Homo sapiens: one gene and its partners. The protein of the gene in region 1 interacts with the protein of each later gene in a biochemical or structural test. Each region holds a gene or a part of one and is shown in the gene's direction. Other genes may lie near its edges. The genes, in order: DLG2, ABCC6, CTNNA2, JAM3, ABCC4, EFNB2 and CD226.

Region 1 (3,336 bases):
AATGAGAGTCTCTTTCCAAAAACAGGCATTGTTCATCTTACGCTAAACATCATTGTCTGCCTGGCTACAGTCACCAAAACAAAACAGAAATGCAAAATTATGCATCTTCCCATAGTCCTGAGGCTTCCTTTGCCAATGGAAGGGCTAGCAATGCATTCTCCCTCTCATGAAAGTTAAATTTCCAGAGACTTCCTTAGATTGCTCAAAATGTTAAAGATATGTCCATGTCTGCAATTCGCCAGTTTCAGGTCAAGGCCTACTTTCATCAATATTGCTCCCAGAAGTTTTCTGACACCAGAATGCCATTCCTGATCCCAGCTCTATTTTTAGGCCACCACGATAACTTCTTTGGTTTCTCAACTGAGCATGCAACCATTTATTTAAAAGACTGTCATTAATGAGTAGATGTTTTCGCGGGTCGTGTGATGTGCTTTCCATTTACTAGTGTTGCTGTGGCTAAGTACAATCAAATTGAACCACCAACCCTTGGTTTTGTAGTAATATAACTATTTATTTTCCTAGTGTAGATGCTTTCAGATTAGAATTGGCATTTGCACTGATTTTTTTATGTAGATTTATATAAATATATAGATACATATATATTTGCTTGAAGAATCACCAAGCAAATTGGTGAGAGGGTCTTTTCCAATAGAATTTACACCTCCATTTGTTGTGTTGTCTTGCACTTCCCAATGTTGATGTCTCTATGGCTCCAATGAACTGGTGTATTTTGCAGCAAATCTGATGACTTGTATGGAAATGGCATGAAAGTTACCCAGATTACATCTGGTGCAAATGCACTCGGAGCCTGGGGCCAGACTGGTGCTAACACTGCAAACTTTGTCCAGAGCTCTCTCCAACCTGAAGGCTTGCTGGGGGTGCAATGTCACCTTCACACATGCTGGGCCCTTTCAGAAAAGTGCCAGATCGTGTAACTGGTGCTATTTTTCATGCTCTGGTACAATGTGTAGCACCACGGGGGTCTCAGCTTTACCAAAATCAAAATTCCATTTGTCAGCTAAGTGCAGAGGCATTTGTTTTTTGCTCTCCTCCCACAGAATTGTCGGCCATTTATTTGCAGGCCTTTTGCGGGATTTCTTGGCTATTTATTTGCAGGCCTTTTTTCCCAGCCCCAAATTCTTGGGTTGGCTCTGTCTGCTTAAAGAGCCTGTCTTCACAAAGCTGCACTCGGGTGCCTCTGTGCGCTGTCTTAGATCCTACTGCCGGCCCTTCAGGACTCCGAGCCAGGAAAGAACTCTCCAACCTCTGGCTCGAGACTCTACTTTTTTTCTCATTCTTTTCCTTACTCTCCTCCTCCTTCTACTTCCGACTAATTCCATCTCTTTTTTTTTTTGTTCCTCTCCTTTTCCTATTCCTCCTTCCCACCATCTCTGAGTTGTTGACTTTCTCCTATAATCCTTCTCTATTCCCTTTCTCTTTTTGTCCACCTCTCCTTTAGTCTCTGTTTCTCTGCCCTTCTTATTCCTCTTCTGTCCTTTCTCCTCTCCTCAAATCTCTGATCATCTTCTCCCGTACATCCCTGTATTGATTTTTCTGTCCTCTAAAGGGCTCATGGCTGATTCAGACAGCAAGTCCATGCACTGGACTAATGACACAAATACTTTAGGTCGCCGTTTCACCTACTCAGCCCAGAAAGTAAAGCTGAGCGTGAGGCCCTGACCTGGAGCCTGCTCCAGCCCGCCTCCCGGAGCCAGCCTGCACCGTTGCCCTGGCAGCGATGATGCATGTGCTGTGGGCCCTGCCGGCGCCTGAGTGCCTCTGCCTGAACACTGCTCCTAAGCGAGCCCACTCCCAGCACTACCGCATGGCTCTGAGGACATTTTCTTTCAATAAAGGCAGACTCTGGCCCCAATTATTCTGATAGCAAACCTCTTCCTCCTCATTGAAGCCATGCCATCACCTTGGTTTGGAGAGAGACATTTTTTTCCCATTCATAAGCTTTCTTTTTCCCATTTTTATGTGAAGCCCCCTCTGCTTTTCAGCTGGTGATTGCTCTGGTGAGACTGAATGGACTTGCTGGTGAAATGAAATCTCTTCTTTCCTGTCTTGGTCCTGCCTAAATTCCTACAAATATATTTAAGCCAAGGACTCAGGCTAATTCCTAAGTTGATCACATTAATTTGTTACTCCTAGAGGGAAAAAGATCAATTCCCTTGAAGCATGTGGAGTACCTCCTGTGACAGCTGACTTGCCAGGGGACTCCCTACAGAATTCTGTGATATACATTTTACTTCTGTGTATGTATGGTATATATGGTATGTATACCATGTACACACGTTACATTGAGTATGAATGACTGTGGTTGGAAACACACACACACACTCAAGTCTGTAAATATCCTTCCTCACTGAAACCTGTGCTTTGGAAATCATTTCTTGTACAGCTGTGCAGTTTCTTGTAACAGCTGAGGACAAAGCTAAGACAGGCGGACAATTTAGACAAAGATCATCTAAAGAGTATAGTATCTCCCTAGCAACTCATGAGGACAGACAACCAAGTGGCAAGGTTGACTCCCAATGGGATGGCAGACTTTTCTTCTCTCCTTTTTGAGTTTGTGTTTCCTAAGTGTTTCTTAACTTCTGAGTGCACCAGGCTGTACCCGTTAGATCCTTTCAATATGACAGTTTTGTGCTTCTCTCTGACAGGATGTTTCTCCACCGAGCTGTAGCACAGGATGGGAGGGAGGTGGGAATACTCCTTGCCTAGGCTGGAGTTTACAGAGACACTGCACAGCTTACACTCCTGTTAAGTGTAAATATTCAACACTTCCATTCCATTTGTGTAAAAAATAAAGCACACACGATTATAAAATCAAGATGTATATTTCATACTCAGTGTGTCTGTGCATATTTATTGCGTTTCTAGTTGTCAGCGGTGGGTGGCCCCATTGTAAAAATGCCTGATAGAGTGTTTATAAACATGTCATGGTTTTATTATAAGATATAAATATTAAAACATTTTATACTTTATGGCAAATGATTTTCTCCCAAAGCATAATTTGTCTTATTTCATAAGGAATAGAATCACTCATGTCTATTTTTATCAATTTTGTCTCTGATTCCAGAGCTAAAATGCAATTAGGGTGGGTATGCCCTGAGAAGTATTGGCACTGCTGAGAGGAAGTGAAAGTGCTGTTTTTGCATATTCTTAAATATTTGGTTACCATCTTGCCTGCTTTTAATCGGGATTTTTCCAAAAGTGAACAATGTATTAAAAGATAGATTTTTAAAGATGCTCACAGCTATGTGAGGGGAAAAATCAATTTCCCAGTGTCAAACTGTGGGATTCCAGAAGATATTAAGGATACAGAAAAAT
Region 2 (3,500 bases), on another chromosome or scaffold:
GCTTCCATCTGGTGACTTCCTCATCCACCTTGGTGTCCCCAGATGAGGAAGCAACTCCGTGACTTCCTTCTTCCTTTAACATTAACCCAGCACCTAATATGTGCTGGGCAGTGTGTTAAATGCTCCAGGTACATTTTCCAGTTTGCACAAATGGGATATTTGCTTTCAGCTGGGAGACATTGGGAAAAGCACTTCATAGCTCAGTCTCAGTTTTCCCATCTGTAAATTGGGACTGGTAATACTGATCTCTGAGTTGTTGTGAAGTTTGAGTTAATACATAGAACATGCTTAGCTCATAGAAAGTGCTCCAGAAATGTTTACTAATGCTTTTATTATTTGCGTTTTCACTCTCACAACAACCCCTAAGTGAGGTGCTAGTACTATCCCATTTTACAGATGCCTCATCAGGCCCCTTCACTGAATCCCTTTCCTCCCTCCCTCTGAACCTACAGAGGCTTCCTCCCTGTCCTCTCCTTGTCCCCTAAAAAGCAGTGGATCCTGTCTCACCAGCTCCAATCTGCTCTCCTGTGATTTTTTTTTTTTTTTTTTTTTGAGACAGAGTCTCACTCTGTTGCCCAGGCTGGAGTGCAGTGGTGTGACCTTAGATCACTGCAACCTCCGCCTCCCAGATTCAAGTGATTCTCCTGCCTCAGCCTCCTGAGTAGCTGGGATTACAGGCACCTGCCACCACACCCGGCTAATTTTTGTATTTTTAGTAGAGACAGGGTTTCACCATGTTGGCCAGGCTGCTATGAAACTTCTGACCTCAATCACCCCCCTCGGCCTCCCAAAGTGCTGGGACTACAGGCATGACCCACCATGCCCAGCCATCCTGTGACCTTTATCAGCATGAATGACACTGCATGTCATTCCCCTGCTCAAAACCTTCTACTAGTTCCAGCTTCCCTTGGGGTAAAGTGTGAATTCCTGAGCTTGGCATTCAAGGCTCTACCCAACCCAGGCCCTGCCAACCTCCCCCTCTCATTCATTGCTCTGCCAGGGCTTAGCCAACATTGTGGAGCAGCTGCCTCTCGGCCAGGGGGGCACATGGTGCTGTGAGCTCCATGAGCTTCTAGTTTTGGAAACCCACTTGGTGTGGTTTACCTGGAGTGTTCCCCTTCCTTGAACTCCTATTGATCCTTCAAGCTTCCATGCAAGTATCCCTTCCTCCATGAGGTCTTCTCTTATTACCTCTGTCAAATCCCAGGCAGCATGAGCAGCACTGCCTTGCTTCCCTTAATTGCCAGAGGTCCAGACCTTGATAATAAACAGCATTGTTGGCTGGGTGCTGTGGCTTATACCTGTAATCCCAGCACTTTAGGAGGCCAAGGTGGGCAGATCACTTGAGGCCAGAAGTTTGAGACCAGCCTGGCCAACATGGTGAAATCCCGTGTCTACTAAAAATACAAAAATTAGCCGAGCATGGTGACAGGCACCTGCAGTCCCAGCTACTAGGGAGGCTGAGGCAGGAGAATTGCTTGAACCTGGGAGGTGGAGGTTGCAGTGAGCTGAGATCGCACCACTGCACTCCAGCCTGGGCAATAGAGCAAGACTTTATCTCAAAAATAAATAAATAAATAAATAAATAAAGCATTGTTCATCACACTGTATTACATTTACTCAATTGCACTGTTTCCTAGACCGGATGATGGGCACACTGGAGCAAGGACTCTTTAATTTCTATACTTCCGGTGCCTAAACAGGTACTTGGCATACAGTGGGGTGACCCACATGTTTCCATCATTAATTAAACAAATAATGTTGAACCCACACCATGTGTCAGACACTGAGGATGCAATAGTAGCAAGAGAGATAAGGATGGAGGGTGGATAACAGCATGGGAGATGGATAACAGAATGGACACATGGATAAGATGGAGGATGAATGGAAGGATGGATGAGGGAAGGATGGACTGGATGGATGGATGGGAGAAAATAAATGAATGAAAGGATTAGTGAATTGATGGATGAATAGGGAAGAAGAAACGAGAGACGGATAGACAGATGAATGGATGGATGAATGGAATGGGGTGGAAGAGAGATGGAGGGATGGGATTGAGGATGGATGATGGATGGATGGATGGCAGGATGGGGTGGAAAAAAGGATAAGGGATGGATGGACGGACAGACAGATGGATGGGATGGGGTAGAAAAAAGGATGAGAGATGATGGAGAGGTGTAAATAGAAGGATGAGGAAAGATGGAGGAACTAAAGGAAGGGTGGGGAGAAAGATGGGAGAGAGATATCAGGATAAGGGAAAGATAGAGAAGAACACAGATGGAAGACTGGATGGATTGATGGGTGGATATATAGAAAGGTAGACAGATGGAAAGAGAGATGGAAGGTAGACCTTTACACAATGAGGGATGGATAGACAGATCTCGGGTACAGCAGAAAGATCTCCCCAATAAATGCCCACAAACCCTCTGGTCAGAGCAGGCCTTTCCTCCCAACCCCGGGCAGGTGGGCATCGTTGGCAGGACCGGGGCAGGGAAGTCCTCCCTGGCCAGTGGGCTGCTGCGGCTCCAGGAGGCAGCTGAGGGTGGGATCTGGATCGACGGGGTCCCCATTGCCCACGTGGGGCTGCACACACTGCGCTCCAGGATCAGCATCATCCCCCAGGTGAGGCTGGTGGAGGGGGTGGGCAAAGATGGGAGGCATGGTGGGACCCGGCTCTGACCCACCGCCCCTCCCCGCCAGGACCCCATCCTGTTCCCTGGCTCTCTGCGGATGAACCTCGACCTGCTGCAGGAGCACTCGGACGAGGCTATCTGGGCAGCCCTGGAGACGGTGCAGCTCAAAGCCTTGGTGGCCAGCCTGCCCGGCCAGCTGCAGTACAAGTGTGCTGACCGAGGCGAGGACCTGAGGTATGGTCGTCCCACCATGGCTGGGACCTGCAGGTGGGAGAGGAGGGGATGGCCATGCCCTCCCCAAGGGCCTTCAGGAAATGCCTCCCCCGATAGGATTATCACTCTGTTACATTAATAACCACATGTCTCTTATCTGCAATTCCAAGCTCTGACACAGTCTCTGAATACCAAGGTTTTCCCCCCTAAATTAGCAGTTAGTCTTCTATATTTACTTGGTGGCAAAACCCAACCTCAACTGACACAGGGCTACTGATAGCCTTTATTGCTCTTGCTCAGTATTTATTTTGCTATGAAAATATTGTTTGATATCGGGTGGTAACCTCACCACTCACTGGGACTATAATATAGGATTTTTTTTTTTGGTAAATGTCAAGTGTGGACTGGGCACAGTGGCTCATGCCTGTAATCCCAGCACTTCAGGAGGCTGAGAGAGGAGGATTGCTTGAGCCCAGGAGTTCGAGACTAGTCTGGGCAACATAGCAAGACCCTATCTCTGTGGACAACAGTATTAGCCAGGTATGGTGGCATGCACCTGTAGTCCTAGTTACTTGGGAGGCTGAGGTGGGAAGAACGCTTGAGCCAGGGAGGCGAAGGTTGCAGTGAGCCGATATTGCACCACTGCACTCCATC
Region 3 (3,500 bases), on another chromosome or scaffold:
TTACAACAAACTTTCCCAGAGCATACAGCTGGACTTCACTTTGTAATAACTTAAGCAGTTATTGTATATACTACATCAGCATAAAAAATCCATAAAAGCATCTTTTATCTCCCCTTCTTTTTAGCATTAAGTACAGTAGTAGGCATATAGTAGGTCTTCGGCAGGTGCAGATTAGCAATAGAATAACTACCTATTCTCATTTATGTTTCGTATTGTATTTGTAAATATGGTAAATTGTTCTTTTCTTACAACTCTTTAAATTTGGTGAATATATAAGGAATAAGGAACGTCAAAAGAAGCAGTAACAGAGTGGCAATTGCACCATAGTATTCTACAGTTGGAAGACCATTTGCCCCATCATTGCCACTCTGGTTCTTGGACCTCTGAGAGTGCACCCCCAATGAAGCACACCATTTCCTGCAGCAGGTCATTCTACCTTATCATTGTGGAATGAACTTCTTTGCTTCAGGCAGAAAAGGCTCCCCAAAGGAAACCAGCCTTTGGTCAATGTCACCTTTGCTTCTAGACTTCACACAGTTAATGATCACATACCATCACGCTCTACCCTCCTCATTTGCTGGGAGTTTTCCAAGTTCTGTTTCTATCTTTCTGACTACCCTTTCTGTCTTCCTTTTTGATTCTGGTCCTTCTGTATAGGGGTCTTCTCTGGCCTGCTCTTCTGGCTCTATTCACTTTACTAGTATGTAATTCACTAGTTTATGTCCAAATACCCCTGACATTTACCAGATCCCTATAAAGACTGTTATAGCTCCTGAATTTTGGACGCATATTTCCATCTACCTCGGGGCATCTCTGCCCACATGTTTCCAGGCTCCTAAAACTTGGCTGGGGAAATGCTAAGCTCATGTTCTATGTGACGCCTTCCTTTTAGGAAATATCACTATTTTCCTCTTATATAGGCTCCTTCCAAACAGGTAAATACCTTTATAAGGATACTGTCAGTTATTTGTGACAAGTCTCATACACACATTAGGAATCCTTTTCTAGAACACTAGCATAAATTAACCTGTACTGAATATGCCTGTTGGGTGTTATGTGCCCAAGTTTCAAAAGGCATCCTGCCATGGGAATATCTGCTTCTCATGAGGAGGATTAACGTGTGTGTATACAAGCCACAGCTAATGCATAATTAAGATGTTGATTATTTATCATGTTTTAGCTCTAAAATCTTTATATAATTCCCCAAAGCATTACACTGAAATGTTCTTTCCTTAAAGGCTACGTATTTTAAAAATGCCAAAAAAGTGTCCTAATCTTATTTGAAAGCTCTTCCGTTGAGATAGCCTTTGCCAAGAACATATTCTTCAAATAAGATGTGCTCTTTTAGCTGAAGATTACATTTAGGACAAAATATCTAGAAAAAGTTAATACTTTGTCAAGGCAACTTTAGAATTTGAGTAACCAGTTTCTCCTCCTTGGGGACTCCTGTTCTTGCCTCAGATATTTCTGGTTTCAAAACAGGGTGCCAAGGCAGACCTCTCTTCTCTGCTGATTTTTGTGTGTGTGTGTGTGATACTTTCAGAATAAGATTATCCTGGACCCCATGACGTTCAGCGAGGCCAGGTTCCGGCCGTCCCTGGAGGAGAGGCTGGAGAGCATCATCAGCGGCGCAGCGCTGATGGCCGACTCCTCCTGCACGCGAGACGACCGGCGCGAGAGGATCGTGGCGGAGTGCAACGCCGTGCGGCAGGCGCTCCAGGACCTGCTCAGCGAGTACATGAATAATGTAAGTCTTGGGATCTCCATTCTCATGTCTTGGTGGATTCTGTTCTGCAATCGTGTTGCTCTTTTGGAAGCATAGATAGCAGGAAAAGAGAACAGACCAGGTGTTTACCAAAGAGAGTCAGGTGAAACCAAAGAACTGCTTTGGGAGAGCGCGTGTCGTGTGTGTTGTTTCTGAATCCATTTTTTGTTTGTTTGTTTTAATATGGAACAGGTGGATGGAGAATAAGCTCTTTCACTTTTTACTTGGCTGATTTCTTCTCGGTCATTTTAGTGGCTGCATTTTGAAGTAGGTAAGATTTCAATTGGTAAAGGTAGATGATTGATGGAAACAGCTGAGGATATAGTAAGTCCTCTGTTACAAAGAGCACTTTTAAACCTAAGGATAGCTGTAGATGCGAATCTTCACCCCTAAGAGGCATTAATAAATCTACTAGGTTTAAAAAACGTGTGGATAGGGTTGTTTAAGGAAAAGTTCTAAATGTAGTAAAATTTGGAGGTGTTTTATTGATTCATAGTCAGGAATTGCTTATAAGAGTGAGTCTCTTAAGTTTTCAAATAGGTATGTATGACTGGTATCTAATTGTATTTTGGCACATAATAGCCATCCTCTCCTATAGTTGTAAAATGTGACAGTTTCTGTGTACCTGTAACCTGCAAGAAGGTGATGAAACTCATATTCTTTGCCTTGAAAGGCACTAAATTATGGCTGTATTGATTTGCTACATTCATTCAGCAGAGGCGATGCTTGCAACAGTGGATGATCTGTGCTTCCCCCTTTCCTGGACTTTCGGGTTTGAGATAATTTAGCACAAATTGGGGAAAAATGTAGATAAAGTGAGGTCTCGATATTACATTTTGAAGGAATGCCCTGTATAGCTACCAGGTGGGTAACAGAGACACTGAAAATCTGCTCACAGCTACTGAAGTCCATGTTAGGTATTATTAGAACACCCCGAGGCAATGCTGAAACAAAGCAGCCATTCAGTGTCTCTCCCTCCAGCATCTTACCACTCCCATCATGAGTAAAAATATGTAGCTAACAGACATGCAAGCAAGGAATGAGTGTTGACAGTAGCAGTGCTCCTCCTGCTGACCCTCCAGAGAACTCACTGAGAAAGCAAAAAGATGTCAATGAGAAAACCTAACAAACTAAAAAAAACAAAATTTGTTTCCTTTCCATGAACCTTCAGATTCTTTGATTTTGGAAGACTTGGCCTTTTTCAGCACACAAAGAATAAAATGTGGATGCATCATGTGGCACCCAGCTGCTTATGAGGACGTCTCTATAGGACCCTGGATGACCAACACTTTCTGTAATTTTGATCCATGGTATTACGTAGGGTGCAGCTAGAAATGTTGACCCCACAGTCTCCCAGCTGAGTGAATCTTTTGAATAGCAGATGTGTCAACGAAGAATGCTTATGAAATCTGAGACGCTGTTTGTTTGTTCGTTGTTGTTGTTAACAAAATAGCAAAGGGCTAATTACATGGATGTGGAATTTGGTTTTACATTAAGGCACGCTAGTGGTTCTATTAATGAATAGTTACTGCCAAAGAAGGAAGTAGAAACTACAGAGATCACAGTGATGGTTAAGATCTCAATATAAATAAATCAGACAAAAAAGTATGTTCTTCTAAATAGAAATCACAGAACGTGACTAAATAAGAGTTGATCAACACGTGACATGTAATTTTCAGTTTGGTGTCTAGAATCCTGCCAACTAGAAGTTTTTCTTTCAGTGTAATCTCATGCA
Region 4 (3,984 bases), about 51 Mb from region 1:
GACCTGGAACATAAAGAAGATTTATGAAAGGAAAGACAGAATCATAGTAGGTAATTGAGTTATTTTTTAATTTTTATTCTGTCTTTATAAGATTTTTGAGAAGGTAATCAATTAACATAAAGATCTGAGCAGTTATAAAGATTTACAAAGAAGATTATACAGTGATGGAAACTGAAGCATATTCTTGGCAACAATCTCAATCTATTTCACGTTTCCCGGCTTTTACATATATAAATTTGGTATACATAATATGTAAATATACTTCTATTTTGCATGAAAACTAAAAATACTAAAAAAGTAGCATGAGTATATGAAAAAGTTAAACATTAAAAATATTAGTTGGAAACTGGCTTATTTTACTAACAATTATATTCAGAATTCTGTTGCTAGACTGCTGTTTCTGGGAACATTGGAGGTGTACTTTCTATACTTGCTAAAATACAAGCTTTTCAAGTATTTTCCATAGTATTAAGTGAGACTTTAAATACTCTTGCTTTTTTAGATCTAATTTCTGCTTTAATTTATCCTTCTCTTCATTTTTCCTGTTTGTCCTCATCTTACCTGTTCTTCCCTGGTTTTACTATCTCCCAGTATTCAGAAATCAGAGCAAATAATTAGTCTGCTTTTCTGCAGAATAAACTATTGGGTATGCCATCATGCTTTTGATCTACCACATAAACAAATTATTTTAGCAAGACATCACTTTTATATGCTGTATAATGTATGTATTGCTTATGTTTTAAGCAGATTTCAGCTCTTTTCCTTCCATCAATTTGGAATTGGGGGCCCAAAAGATGTGAAGGCGATAATGCTTCCAAGATAACTGGGCTGCATCCTTATTTGTAAAATAAGAAATACTTTATTTCCCAAATTTTAAAGGAGTGTTCCTTCTCCGACCTGTTGTGATGGATTTATTCTATAGCTATGGAAATATACCCTGCTTCACTCTTGTACATACTTCTTTACTCTCCTCCCGCCAAGTTCATTGAAAGAGAACCCATGTGCCGGTCCAGAGCATCGCTGCATCCGTAAGCAGCTAGACCTCAGCTTCCTCTGTCACCATGGTGCCGGCTCGGCTGGGCCCGGCGGTCGCCATGGTAACTGGGGCGGGTCGCAGGGTCCTGGCAGGCTGGGCGCATGCGCGCGGGGACTACAAGCCGCGCCGCGCTGCCGCTGGCCCCTCAGCAACCCTCGACATGGCGCTGAGGCGGCCACCGCGACTCCGGCTCTGCGCTCGGCTGCCTGACTTCTTCCTGCTGCTGCTTTTCAGGGGTGAGTTTGCGCGTTTCCGCTGTTGGGAGACTAGGGTCTGGGGGCGACGGAAGCAGAGCGGGCCGAAGCTGCTGGAGCCGGTCCGGGCGAGGATAGCGGTCCTGGCTCCGAGGGCTCCCGGGGTCCCGGGCCGGAGGGGCGGCGCGCGCCCGCGTCCCCGCAGCCAGGGCTGGGACTCGGGCCTGGCTAGGGCGGGGGCCCTGGGACGCCCGGCAGTTGGACCGGGGCGGGGAGCTAATTTGGGATGGGGGGCCCGTCCCAGGCAGTGAGTCGGTCCCGGACAGCCGTCGGACCCCGGGGGCGGGCTCTTCTCGGGCGGGGTCCTGTGCTGGGCGGTGGGCTCATCCCCCGGGTGGGCTCCTCCCAGGCGGGGTCCTGTGCTGGGCGGTGGGCTCATCCCCCGGGTGGGCTCCTCCCAGGCGGGGTCCTGTGCTGGGCGGTGGGCTCGTCCCCGGGGTGGACCCCTCCCGGGCGGTGGGCACGGCCCTCTGGAGGGAGCGCGGCAGCTGCGGCGTGGGCGCTGGAACTTGCTGGAAGACCCTGCGCAGCAGTGCTGTGCTCTCCAGAAGGGACGGTGAGCGGGGGACGTAGCTGAGGACCGGCGAGGCAGAGCTCCGAGGCCTGGCGGGCTGCTTGGTCACAGCCCTCTGGGGATCTGCAGTTCATTTGACTCGACACAAAGGAACTGCTTTTCTTTTACAGAAATAAAATGGATATCAATCCAGTACCTTTTTTGTCTCTGGCCTGGCCGAGGAGACCACGCAGACTCTTATCCGGAAATAGCATTCGGGGCATTTGATCAAGACACACTAATAAACTTGATAGTTTTGTGCATTTTCTTTCCCTCTGTTTGGAATTCTCATTAGATCCACATTTTCCTGGACAGTTGTACAGAGGACTAAAATAGCTTTCCTTTAGTGAGCTTGTACTGTCTACTAGGCACTTTGGAGCCATTATCTCGTTTACTCCTTTCAGCAGCTCTGTGAGATAGGTTTCATTAATCCATTTTCAGAGTCAAGTCTAGTCTGCTTTCCAAGGCTGCATTCTAAGTAGTGAAGCCTCAACTTCATATTTACCTAAAGCAGGACACCACACTCTTCCCCTGGCAGCCATCCGCAGGTAACCAGACCAGGACCTTTTTCGGTTCTTAGATTATTTTATTGTTTGAATTGCCACTGTCATCCCATGATGTTTTCCAGAATATACAAATTAAAACACGGAGGGACTGTTTAGGAGTGAAGGTGGACAGATTTTGGAAAACAAAGCATTCCTGTGTTTGGTGCTTTATGCTAATGGGATGCTCGTGATGGGCTGTGACAAAAGATGAGTTTTAGCGTATAGATTATGTACGCTAAGGCAAAGTCTGTATACTTTGCCTGAAAGTGATTCCCAAAACCAAATGCTGTTGGGAGATAAGTGATCAAAGGCTAGCCAGGGGACAAGGGTGTCAGGAATGTCCAGCACCCGCTGTGTTGGTCACACTGACACTGTCCTATTCACAGCCTGGAACAACTCTCTATTGTTGAAAAGATCTGTTCACGTGAAAGTTTGCAGTTTTTGTTGCAGAAGCATTTGGCAGTTTAGCTCAGGAATGAATTTCAACTTGGTAGTTTGTTAATAAAACTAGAAAATGCAAAGAGCTTCACTTACCCTTAACCTCTGATTTCCTTCCCCTAAGGGACTAGTTTTGTGGCTTTTTTGCTGGTAGGGGCTGGGATTCACATGCAGAGCGTAGGAGGAAGAATCAAATTTTGCAAACTAGTTCTAATGACAAATAATCGAGGTAGTAGGATGTATGAATCCACTTTGAAGGCGTGTAGCTATCTTTTTTTTAGTAGGGGCTCTTTTTCCATTATTTGGTTTATGCTTTAAGCTACCCTAAAACTGTTCTTCCAGAAGTCATGACTACTGTGTCCTTTTTATTTTTTATGATTATTCTCAATTGCTATTACTATTTATTTTCATCTTAAAAATTTTGGTTCTTGATATAACAGCAAACATTTCTTTTGTGGTTACCCTTTGCCAGGCTCTGTTACAAGAATTTAATGTTTGCTAATTTATTTAATCTTGATAACTCTAAGAAGTCGTTACTATTGTTGTGCCCTTTTGTGGATGAGGGAACAGAAGTATGGAGAGATTCAGACCCTTGTCGGGAGTGTTATCCTGTGCGTTTTAAATGGGAAATCCTTCATTATTTGTGTTAATCCAATTTTTAGTTATTTGTATTATTCCATTTGACGGTGGAGTTCTTTTAATGGATCAGTTTAAACAGATTATCAAGTTTTCAACACTATGTGGTTTGTATATAAAATATTCTTTTGTTGACTCATGACAGGTGCAGTTCAGCTTTACAAATGTTATGCCACATGGCTTTTTTGAATGATTGTGTACTCATTAGTGTTAGGTTTCCAAATCTTTGATATTCTAGAGAGAAGTGCCTTATTTAGAATTAAAACAGCAACAGTTTTCATTCTTCAGATAAGACAACTTGTGTGCTGAAGCATATCAAAATCTGAAAATCAAAATTTCTGGGAAATTTTTGAAAAAATGTTTAATTCTTTTATTTGCATCTGTTTGGACTCCAGTAACGTTTTTTAGAATGGCATATTCTTTTATGTTCTAATTCTTAATTATCTGGCAGATATAATCATTGTCAGACTTGTGTGTATGTTTTAAAAAAAACAAAGAACACCTGTCTTGAAAGCATGCAGT
Region 5 (3,500 bases), on another chromosome or scaffold:
ATGGAGTTTCACTCTTGTTGCCCAAGCTGGAGTGCAGTGGCGTGATCTCGGCTCATTGCAACCTCTGCCTCCGGAGTTCAAGCGATTCTCCTGTCTCAGCCTCCCAAATAGCTGGGACTACAGATGTGCGCCACCATGCTCAGCTAATTTTTTGTACTTTTAGGAGAGATGGGGTTTCAACATGTTGTCCAGGCTGGTCTTGAACTCCTGACCTCGGGTGATCCACCCACCTGGGCCTCCCAAAGTGCTGGGATTACAGGCGTGAGCCGCCATGCCCAGCCTGGACTATGTTTTCTACCCCAACCTTGTGGTCAGAGGTGACCATGAAACTGAGACCTGGCCAATAGGAAGTGGTTGCAAAAGGTGTCTCGCTTCCACGACTGGAACACAAAAACCAGCCCCATGCAACGCCTCTCCAGCTGAATAAAGAGGCCTCCTGGAGAGGAGGAGGACTGAGAGGAGGCCGAGCCGCAAGATGGTGAAAGTCCAGCTAGGAGTAAATGTATGGTGTTGTTCACCACCCTAGATGGCCCAAAAGGGGACTATAGCATGACAATAGGCATGGTCTTGGTTTCTTGTTTTCTTTTTTGAGACGGAGTCTATCTCTGTCTTGCAGGCTAGAGTGCAGTGGCGTGATCTCGGCTCACTGCAACCTCTGCCTCCCGGGTTCAAGCGATTCTCTTGCCTTAGCCTCCTCCCAAGTATCTGGGATTACAGGAGCTCAAAACCACGCCCGGATAATTTTTTATTTATTTATTTATTTTGTATTTTTAGTAGAGAAGGGGTTTTGCTGTGTTGGCCAGGCTGGTCTCCAACTCCTGACTTCATGTGATCCACTGCCTCGGCTGGTGATTTTGAATTAAGCCATTGAGAATCAGGGCTTGTTTAATAGCTAGCATTATTTGCACGATACAGTGGCTGCCTCCCTCATTGTGTGAGCTCTTTGAGAACAGGAATGGTACTTTATTGTAATGGATTTGCACCTGGCAAGAAAGAAGGCACCCTGCCTTCTTTCATGGTGGCACATGCCTGTAATCCCAGCTACTTGGGAGACCGAGCAGGAGAATCGCTTTAACCCAGGAGGTGGAGGCTGCAGTGAGCCAAGATTGCACCACTGCACTCCAGCCTGGGCTACAGAATGAGACTCTGTCTCAAAAAAAAAAAAAAGCAAAAGAAAACGTAGTCCAGGCTGGGTGCGGTGGCTTATGCCTGTAATCCCAGCACTTTGGGAGGCCGAGGCAGGTGGATCACAAGGTCAGGAGTTCAAGACCAGCCTGGCCAACGTAATGAAACCCCGTCTCTACTAAAAATACAAAAATTAGCTGGGCGTGGTGGCATGCACCTGTAGTCCCAGCTACTCGAGAGGCTGAGGCAGGAGAATTGCTTGAACCCGGGAGGCAGAAGTTGCAGTGAGCCAAGATCACGCCACTGCACTCCAGCCTGGGCAACAGAGCGAGACTCCATCTCAAAAAAACATAGTCCGTGTGTCCAGCAGTCGCTGCTGCAGGAGTTCATCCTGAACCCGTGTTGGGTGTGCTGGAGTAGAAGTATGGAAAAGCTGTGTGAGGGTGGGGATTTTGTTTTTGTTTTTGTTTTTTGAGATGGAGTCTCTGTCGCACAGGCTGGAGTGCAGTGGCATGATCTCGGCTCACTACAACCTCCGCCTCCCGGGCTCAAGCGATTCTCCTGCCGCAGCCTCCCAAGTAGCTGGGATTACAGATGTGCACCACCAGGCCTGGCTAATTTTTTTGTTGTTGTTAGAGACAGGGTTTTGCCATGTTGGCCAAGATGGAGATCTCTGGGGAGGGGTTTACCTTCCTGTTGGAGCTTGGATGGAGAAGGTGGGAAATCGTTCCTGGCAGGGGATGAGATGTCCAGGTCACAGAACTGCAGTTGGAGAAAGTGTTGCCTGAGACGTGTGGCGAATGACCACCCCTCAGTCGCTATGTCGTCCCTGCCAGCCGGTAGCGTTTGTTACACCCAAGGTTGCCCTCCCCTCTTTCATCCCAGCAGATGTTCAGACTTTGCTTCTCCCACTTCCAGCCCCTTACTCATGAGTACTTACAGCCCTTTTGTGGCCTGCGACGTAGCTCCTTGTTCCATTTCTGGGTTCCATGACCACTTCCGTGCTGGTCTGTTTCAGGCCTAGTCCCTGTCTGCTCTTTTCTCTGCGCTAGCTCCTATCTTCCCCTTTTCCTTAGTGTCATAGAATTAGTGGGTTGAAAGGAAGAGATCTTCTAGCCCACACTCAGTACAGGAATCCCTTCCAGATACTGGGCAGTGGGGAAATGCATTATGTGACTCTCATGACTTTAGATTCGAATGCCAGAATTATGTTGTATTGAGCCACAGTTTTCTTTCCATGCAATTTCTACTTGTGTTTACTTACTTCTAAGAAAAGCATTACAGAATTTAATGAAGCAAAGAATGATCTGTGAATCAAGCAGCTCCTAGAACCAAAATAGGTTCAGAGCCGCTCTCCTTTGTTTTTTTGTCAACACGCAGAGCAAGTTGGCTACCTCCCTTCATATGCTCGCCTCATAGTATTCAAAGACAGCTATCATGGCCACATTAAATCTTTGTTTCTTTGTTTGAGACAGGGTGTCACTCTGTCACCCAGGCTGGATTGCAGTGGTGCGATCTCAGTTCACTGCAACTTTCACCTCCTGGGCTCAAGCCATCCTTCCACCTCAGCCCCCTGAGTAGCTGGGACCACAGGTGTGTGCCAGCATGCCCAGCTAATTTTTTATATTTTTTGTAGAGATGAAGTTTTGCCATGTTGCCCTGGCTGGTATTGAACTCCTGGGCTCAAGTGATCCTCCCGCCCTAGCCTCCAAAAGTGCTGGGATTACAGGCATGCGCCATGGTGCCTGGACAGGAGTTTATTTTTGACCCTGTTAAGTTTGAGATGCCTGCTACACATTCAAGTGGAGATGTTGAATAGGCATTCAATTGGTCATGAGTTTGGGGCTCATGGAGAAGTTTATCTTATTATTATTATTTCTTTAAATGGAGTTTCACTGTGTTGCCCAGGCTGGCGTGCAGTGGTATGATCTTGGCTCACTGCAACCTCCACCTTCTGGTTCAAGCAATTCTCGTGCCTCAGCCTCCCGAGTAGCTGGGATTACAGGCACGCGCCACCACACCCAGCTAATACTTGTATTTTAGTAGAGATGGAGTTTCATCATGTTGGCCAATGTGGTCAGGAAGTTTATGTCAATTTGGGCATCATCAGTGATACATGCAGTTGAGCTATATTGGACACATGGCCAATTGACCTCACAGTCCGCAGGGCTTGTCCCCATGTAACTGCTCTTCTATCCCTATGCAAATTCATTTTGTAGATGCTAACGTTTAGCAGCTCATTGTTGCTGTTGAAAGTTCTTGGAACACTTTCGTAGTCTGAATGCTAGAAAGGATGGGTCCTAGGAATGTCCTCTAGGTTGTGGCAGATCCACTAATCAACACTGTGGTTGCTAGATTAACTTGGCCACAAGTGT
Region 6 (3,500 bases), on another chromosome or scaffold:
CCTAATGTAAATGACGAGTTAACAGGCGCAGCCCACCAACATGGCACACGTATACATATGTAACAAACCTGCACGTTGTGCACATGTACCCTAGAACTTAAAGTATAATAAAAAAAAATTTTAATAGCCCCATTAAATAATTAAAAAGATTTTTTTTAGATTCACAGAAGTGTACAAAATTTTTAGGTTTTTTTTTTTTTAAGCTGTCTGCTGAATAGTTTCTTAATGGTCTACAATGTTTGTATCTACAAACAGATACTGTCTGCTTCTTACTACCCTTCCAAGACAAGTATTATTATGGCAATTATTGCCCAGTTTCCCGGGAAAAATTTATCCACAGTTACAGAAGAATGAGATGCAATTGTGAGACTGTAAAGTTTAAGCAAGCACTCAGAGAAGCACAGTGATATGTATGCACAGAAGAGGCAGTCTTTGTTTTGAGGAAAACAGTGAAAGTAAAGTTAATTCAAGACCACAAAGACAAGTAAATAAGTGCCTTATTTTTGTAGTTAATATAATTTCAGTGGAATGCATATTTCTACCATAAATGCATATAGAACTTGTTTGCTGACCTACTGTTTGGAAAACAAACAATCCCATTAGAAGAATGTCTTTGGGATTTATTTTTACCAGAAAATCAATCCTTTTTTCAGTCCCTTGCAAAGTACAGTGTTACAAGCCAAGACTTTGATAATCAGGTAGAAAATGGATTTAAATTGCAGAAATGTATATGAAACACTTTTGTTCCTTGCCCCTTGAACTTTAGGGGAATGAAAATGTCTAGCACTCTCCACCTTCTTTTCTCTCCTGGAACTTGAACTGTAATTCAAAGCCTGTTTCTCATTAAAGTACCTGGCAGCCTATCTCTTTACAGCTTGAGTTACAAAGCTATTCAGAGACCTCGCTGGTCTAAAGAGACAGAACAAGGATGTGTTTAAATAGAGCATAGGCTGTTGAAAAAAAAAATGCTGAAAATGGTAAAATGATTCTGTCCTTCCTTCCACTCCTCACTGCTGAGGTGGAGAGGGAATTCAGTTGGTGAACACCAGCAAGTGGCTGGTAAAAGTCCCCACTTTCTCTCCAGGGCTGCCACAGGACCCAGAATGAGTGGTGGGCATGTGTGTGAACCCTCTATTCAGCCAGAGTTTTCCCGCAACAGGTAGTTTGGTTGAAGAGGTTGACTAAGGTTGACATTGGCAGTAATAACACGTATGTTCTTCTGATTTACAAAACGATGGAGGAAAAAGGGGAGATTTTGAAGACCTGATTTCTGGTATACTTCTTAAGCATGCATAAGGCTGAAAAAAGAAGACAAGGGTTGTGGGAGGCTCCTGGTCTAGTGTTTACAGAACTTGGATGCTTGACAAACAGAGCGTCAAGCTAATTGTTCTTGAAGCAGGAAATCTGCAGTGGAGGAAGCAGGTGTGGGGGGATGATTACCACGTTTGGAAATGGCTGCATTAACTATTTTGCTCTTCTGAGTTTGGCCCCAAAAGAGTCCATAGACTTTTTGAAGGATGCCATCCCTTTTATTTATAGACTAACATTAAATCAGTCATTTGTGAAGGAAGGAGAAAGTGCCTAAATAAATTTGGAGTCAGATAGCATACGTGCGGCAGTGTTTCCGATATCCATTTCTCTTTATTTCTTTTTCTTTTTCTTTTTGGCTTTCAGCATCCCCATACTTTCAGAAAACTTGTGACTAAGAGTGAATTCTTATTTTTCAAATTGTTTTCAGACATTTCATGTTCATGTAAACTTGGCTTATTGATTTCCTGATTTTTCTTTATTTTTTTGTTTTGTCCATTTTATTTTTAATCAGCTACATCAAATGGGTCTTTGGAGGGCCTGGATAACCAGGAGGGAGGGGTGTGCCAGACAAGAGCCATGAAGATCCTCATGAAAGTTGGACAAGGTAAAGACCATCTGCTGCTTCATGACGCCACTGTGACCTGGTGTAGCCCCCAGCTAGTATGGTGCTAATGTTGCCGATGCCCACCTTCATTCGCTCTTCTTTTTAGTTTTCAAAGCAAACCCTTCTGCACTTTGAGCCACTGACAGATTTCCTCAAGTCAATGTACTAAGCTTTTATTGGAGATCTAAGAGTTAAGATCAGCAAGGTAGAATGTCTATTGCCATAGATAGATAGATAGATAGATAGATAATAGATAGATAGATAGATAGATAGATATTTCTTTTTAAAAAGCAAAACACTTTGGTTCAAAATCAAAATATCCAGAATGAAAACTAAAAGCTTGTGCAGTTTTGCTCATTTCTGAATCTTGACTACAGAAGAGTTTTGTTCATTGTGACTTTTCCAATATAGATAACCTATTGTGCAGAAAGAAATAATTATTCTTCTAATTAAAAATTGGTATAGTAGTCAATCAACTTGCTCAGTTAAATTGAAATGTCATCTGCAATGCTTTGCCTGCCAAATGCAAGAATCCCTATAGTTTCCACAGATGGCCTCACGTTCTAAACCTCTGAAATAACTAGTATAACCATTTTGTTTTAAAAGAAAAATTATATTCTTGTATTTCACAGTACTTTGCATAAAGACTCTTATGTTCATTGCTATTCATGCCTGTTGAAATATATATGCAGCTCCTAAAGCTAGATATTGTCAGATGTCTGTGCCGTAATTAATCATTTGTTTTTCATATAGATGCAAGTTCTGCTGGATCAACCAGGAATAAAGATCCAACAAGACGTCCAGAACTAGAAGCTGGTACAAATGGAAGAAGTTCGACAACAAGTCCCTTTGTAAAACCAAATCCAGGTATAACAGCATGATCTGTGTGTATGGAGGTCTGTGGGTACCACATTCTTAGTAGTATCTTAAAAGGTAGGGCAGAGTCTAAAGACTTCTAACCAGTTAGGATTAGCTGGAAGTTACAGTGATCAGGAATCTTTGCTGTCAGTGAGTCATTATTAATTACACTCAATAAGAACAAAATAACTCATTCCAATGAAAGTCATATATTCAAAGGAGTAGAGTTCATGAGCTGTAAGTGCCAGTTATTAGAACTACTCTGTCAGGCCAAAGGTTTCATTGGCTGACATTTTATCAAGCTGGTTGTCAACTCCAGCTTAAAGCTGATGTTAATGTATATGTAATTAATGTGCTAATCCCTCATCTAATTATATCTAAGCCACAGAGGGTTTAATTGATCCTCTTCTAAATTTTAAATGGTAACATTTTTAAATATTGCATAATAGTATTTTTTCAGGTGGTTATCGTTATTTTGTTTCACATTTTCCATGTAAAAGAAAATATTAAACAGGTCCCTGACAAAAGTGTAGAATACCAGATAAAATTGTCCGTCGTTGACCTTCGTTTTCTTAACAGTCTTGGAACAAATAGTTCTGTATTTGTTACCATGCTAATGAAGGTTTTATAGAGTAGCTGTTGAGCAGACATCAGCAGTTTTGTATTAGGATTGTTGTGTGCTTGCTTGGTCGTTGTGCAAATTTATCGTCTGCAGCAATATTCCATC
Region 7 (3,500 bases), on another chromosome or scaffold:
GTGTCTGTGGCTTCTCCAGTTGCATGGTGCAAGCCGTCTGTGGATCAGATTCAGATTGTGGGGTCTGAAGGATGGTGGCCCTCTTCTCACAGCTCTACTAGACAGTGCCCCAGTGGGGATTCTGTGTGGGGGCTCCAACCCCACATTTCCCTGCTGCAGTGCCCTAGCAGAGGTCTTCCATGAGGGCTCTGCCCTTGCAGCAACTTCTGAATGGACACCCAGGTGTTTCTGTACATTTTCTGAAGTCTAGGCAGAGGTTCTCAAACCACAGTTCTTGACTTCTGTGCACCCGCAGGCCCAACACCACGTGTAAGCTGTCAAGGCTTGGGGCTTGCACCCTCTGAAGCAACAGCCTGAGCTGTATGTTGGCCCCTTTTAGCCGTGGCTGGGACATAGGGCACCATATGCAGTCCCGAGGCTGCATAGAGCAGGGGGTCTTAGGCTTGGCCCAGGAAATCACTTTTCCCTCCTAGGCTTATGATGGAAGGGGCTGCCATGAAGGTCTCTGACATGCCTTGGAGACATTTTCCCCATTGTCTTGGTGATTTACATTTGGCTCCTCATTACTTATGCAAATTTCTGCAGCTGGCTGGAATTTCTTCCCAGAAAATGTTTTTCTTTTCTGTCGCATCATCAGGCTGCAAATTTTCCAAATTTTTTATGCTCTGCTTCCTCTTGAATGCTTTGCCCCTTAGAAGTTTCTTCTGCCAGATACCCTAAATTATCTCTCTCAAGTTCAAAGTTCCACAGATCTCTGGGGCAGGGGCAAAATGCCACCAAACTCTTTGCATAGCAAGAGTGACCTTTACTCCATTTCCCAAAAAGTTCCTCATCTCCATCTGAGACCACCTCAGCCTGGACTTCATTGTTTATATCACTGTCAGCATTTTGGTCAATGTCATTCAACAAATTTCTAGGAAGTTCCCAAATTTCCCACATTTTCCTGTCTTCTTCTGAGCCCTCAAAACTGTTCCAACCTCTACCTGTTACCCAGTTCCAAAGTTGCTTTCACACTTGTGGATATCTTTACAGCAACCCTCCACTCTCTGCTGTACTCATTTACTGTATTACTCAGTTTTCATGCTGCTAATAAAGACATACCTGAGACAGGGTAATTTATAAAGGAAAGAGGTTTAATTGATTCTCAGTTCAGTATGGGTGGGGAGGCCTCAGGAAACTTACAATCATGGTGGAAGGGGAAGCAAATATGTCCTTCACATGGTAGCAGGGAGAAGAAGAGTGAGTGCCCAGAGCAGGGGAAGCCCCTTATAAAACCATCAGATCTCATGAGAACTAACTCACTATCATGAGAACAGGATGGGGGAAACCACCCCCATGATTCAGTTATCTCCACCTGGTCTCTCCCACGACACGTGAGGGTTATGGGAACTACAACTCAAGATGAGATTTGGGTGGGCACACGGCCAAATTATATCATATGATCATGGAGACTGATAAGCCCAAATTTGCAGTGTGGGCTTGCAGGCTGCAGACCCAGGAGAGCCGATGGTACAGGTGAAGCCCAGGTCATCTGCTGCAGAATCCCTCTTGCTTGGGGAGGCTGGTCTTTTTGTTGAATTAGGCTCACCTACATTATGGAGGCAAACTGCTTATTCAAAATTCACCAATTTAAATGTTAATCTCATCCCAAAACACCCTTCAAATTGACACGTAAAATTAACCATCATACCTGTTTTGGAAAATGATATGGCATTAGCTAGTTAAAAACCCCAAATCCTATGATCCAATAATTCTACTCTGTTTGGTATCCAAGAGTTCTCTCATTATAGGGAAAATTCCTGACAATATTTATAGCAACAGTGATTGCAATAGCAAAAAATTGGTAACAACCCAAATACCCATCAACAGTAGAACCGAAAAGCACACTGAGGTCTATTCACACATTAGGATACTCTACATCACTAAAATGAGTGAATTATCACTTGCTCACCGACATGGATGAAGCTCATGAACTTTGTGTTGAAAGAAAAGAGCAAGTTACCAAAAAAAATAGGTAAACTAGGGTTCCTTTTCTTTAAAGGTTTTAGAAATATGCATAATTAAACAATACGTTATTTATAGATACAAACGTGGTAAAACTATAAAGAAAAGCAAAGTTCAGAAACATGGTAGGTGGGGGATAGAATAGAATCAGGAAGGGCTGAAAGGGTCTTTAAGGCTCATAGTCAGGGTGTTTTCCTTATACAGGTGTTTTATTTTGCATTTGTCTCAAAATGTTTTAGAAGATTTCTTTCAAATCTACTGATTTCTTTTTCTTTTCCTTTTTTGAGACAGAGTCTCACTCTGTTGCCCAGGCTGGAGTGCAGTGGCATGATCTCAGCTCATTGCAACCTCTGCCTCCTGGGTTCAAGTGGTTCTCCTGCCTCAGCCTCCTGAGTAGCTGGGATTACAGGCCTGCATCATCACACCCAGCTAATTTTTGTATTTTTGTAGAGATGGGGGTTTTGCCATGTTGGCCAGGCTGATCTCAAACTCCTGACCTCAGGTGATCCACCCCACCTTGGCCTCCCAAAGTGCTGGAATTACAGGCATAGGCCACCTTGCCTGGCCAAATCTACTGATTTCTAATGGTGAAAAGAGATGTGATTGCAATTTTTGAGCAGTTGAAAGCTCTAAGGTAAGGATGAAATCTTCATTCTGATATGGCCTGGGGGCCAGGTAGAGGTAAGTTTCAGCAATGGTTTCAAATTTTTATGATCCAAGGACTAAAAAATGATGATTTTAGTGAAAAAGATGTGAAATTAAGAGACCAACTTGGCTAGCAAGAGTGGAATTAAGTCTGTTTCAGGTGTATTAAATTGTAAAGTAGCCTTTGACCAGCTGACAATTGAAATTATGGAACAACAAACCAGGATTGAAAATATCCAATTTGAAGTCATCTGAATGATCATCCAGCACATGTGGATGGATGGGGTTAACTAAGAAAGTACCAATGGATGGGGGCAGAAGTCTAAGGTCATAGCTTGTGGCTTGGAGGATGGTCACATTGTAGTGTGTTAAAGAAGGTGTTCATGTTAAAGAATGTAGAGGGCATAGAGAAAAGAGGGGGAGAGTTGGGAGGGAGAGGAAAGTGAACAGGTGAATTATTGATGTGAGAGCAGAAGACACATAGAACTCATATTTATAGTAGAGGGTTAGATTTTCTTGCTCCACACATGCAGGTACTTTGTGTTGGCTGTATTGTATGTTTGCTGACTCTGTGATCTCCCATATTCCAGTCCATTTATCTCAAACTGGGCACAGAGATGTTCCTCACTGTTTCCCTTTAAGAGTCTCATTCTCTCCCAGGTGGGATGAGGCTCCTTATATGCCATCCATGCTCATTCTTAGAAGGCTCTTATCTCTACACCCTTCAGGGACAAGTGTTCTCTGTCCAGGTTCCCAGCAGCTGACATAGCAGCCAAAGTTTTCTTTCATTCTTGTATATATCTGCTGGTTAGTGGCACTAAAGAGATTCCTTTAATATTAAGGGCTCCAGA

The links.
Region 2: the proteins of DLG2 (region 1) and ABCC6 interact in a test that uses a peptide from one of them, tested with the Homo sapiens proteins (one large-scale study listed by IntAct).
Region 3: the proteins of DLG2 (region 1) and CTNNA2 interact in a test that uses a peptide from one of them, tested with the Homo sapiens proteins (one large-scale study listed by IntAct).
Region 4: the proteins of DLG2 (region 1) and JAM3 interact in a test that uses a peptide from one of them, tested with the Homo sapiens proteins (one large-scale study listed by IntAct).
Region 5: the proteins of DLG2 (region 1) and ABCC4 interact in a test that uses a peptide from one of them, tested with the Homo sapiens proteins (one large-scale study listed by IntAct).
Region 6: the proteins of DLG2 (region 1) and EFNB2 interact in a test that uses a peptide from one of them, tested with the Homo sapiens proteins (one large-scale study listed by IntAct).
Region 7: the proteins of DLG2 (region 1) and CD226 interact in a test that uses a peptide from one of them, tested with the Homo sapiens proteins (one large-scale study listed by IntAct).

Annotation. Positions count from the first base shown.
Region 1 is NC_000011.10:83,454,673-83,458,008, reverse strand, and holds the end of DLG2 (disks large homolog 2), read left to right. Parts: 3' UTR 1-2,836; downstream 2,837-3,336. UniProt on the Homo sapiens protein: Required for perception of chronic pain through NMDA receptor signaling. Regulates surface expression of NMDA receptors in dorsal horn neurons of the spinal cord.
Region 2 is NC_000016.10:16,153,995-16,157,494, reverse strand, and holds part of ABCC6 (ATP-binding cassette sub-family C member 6), read left to right. Parts: intron 1-1,640; exon of another isoform or gene 1,641-1,703; intron 1,704-2,463; coding exon 2,464-2,622; intron 2,623-2,700; coding exon 2,701-2,867; intron 2,868-3,500.
Region 3 is NC_000002.12:79,908,051-79,911,550, forward strand, and holds part of CTNNA2 (catenin alpha-2), read left to right. Parts: intron 1-1,543; coding exon 1,544-1,747; intron 1,748-3,500. UniProt on the Homo sapiens protein: May function as a linker between cadherin adhesion receptors and the cytoskeleton to regulate cell-cell adhesion and differentiation in the nervous system. Required for proper regulation of cortical neuronal migration and neurite growth.
Region 4 is NC_000011.10:134,067,888-134,071,871, forward strand, and holds the start of JAM3 (junctional adhesion molecule C isoform 1 precursor), read left to right. Parts: upstream 1-1,184; 5' UTR 1,185-1,196; coding exon 1,197-1,272; intron 1,273-3,984. UniProt on the Homo sapiens protein: Junctional adhesion protein that mediates heterotypic cell-cell interactions with its cognate receptor JAM2 to regulate different cellular processes. Plays a role in homing and mobilization of hematopoietic stem and progenitor cells within the bone marrow.
Region 5 is NC_000013.11:95,291,452-95,294,951, reverse strand, and holds part of ABCC4 (ATP-binding cassette sub-family C member 4), read left to right. Parts: intron 1-3,500. UniProt on the Homo sapiens protein: ATP-dependent transporter of the ATP-binding cassette (ABC) family that actively extrudes physiological compounds and xenobiotics from cells.
Region 6 is NC_000013.11:106,494,163-106,497,662, reverse strand, and holds part of EFNB2 (ephrin-B2 isoform 1 precursor), read left to right. Parts: intron 1-1,822; coding exon 1,823-1,915; intron 1,916-2,668; coding exon 2,669-2,782; intron 2,783-3,500. UniProt on the Homo sapiens protein: Cell surface transmembrane ligand for Eph receptors, a family of receptor tyrosine kinases which are crucial for migration, repulsion and adhesion during neuronal, vascular and epithelial development.
Region 7 is NC_000018.10:69,937,874-69,941,373, reverse strand, and holds part of CD226 (CD226 antigen isoform a precursor), read left to right. Parts: intron 1-3,500.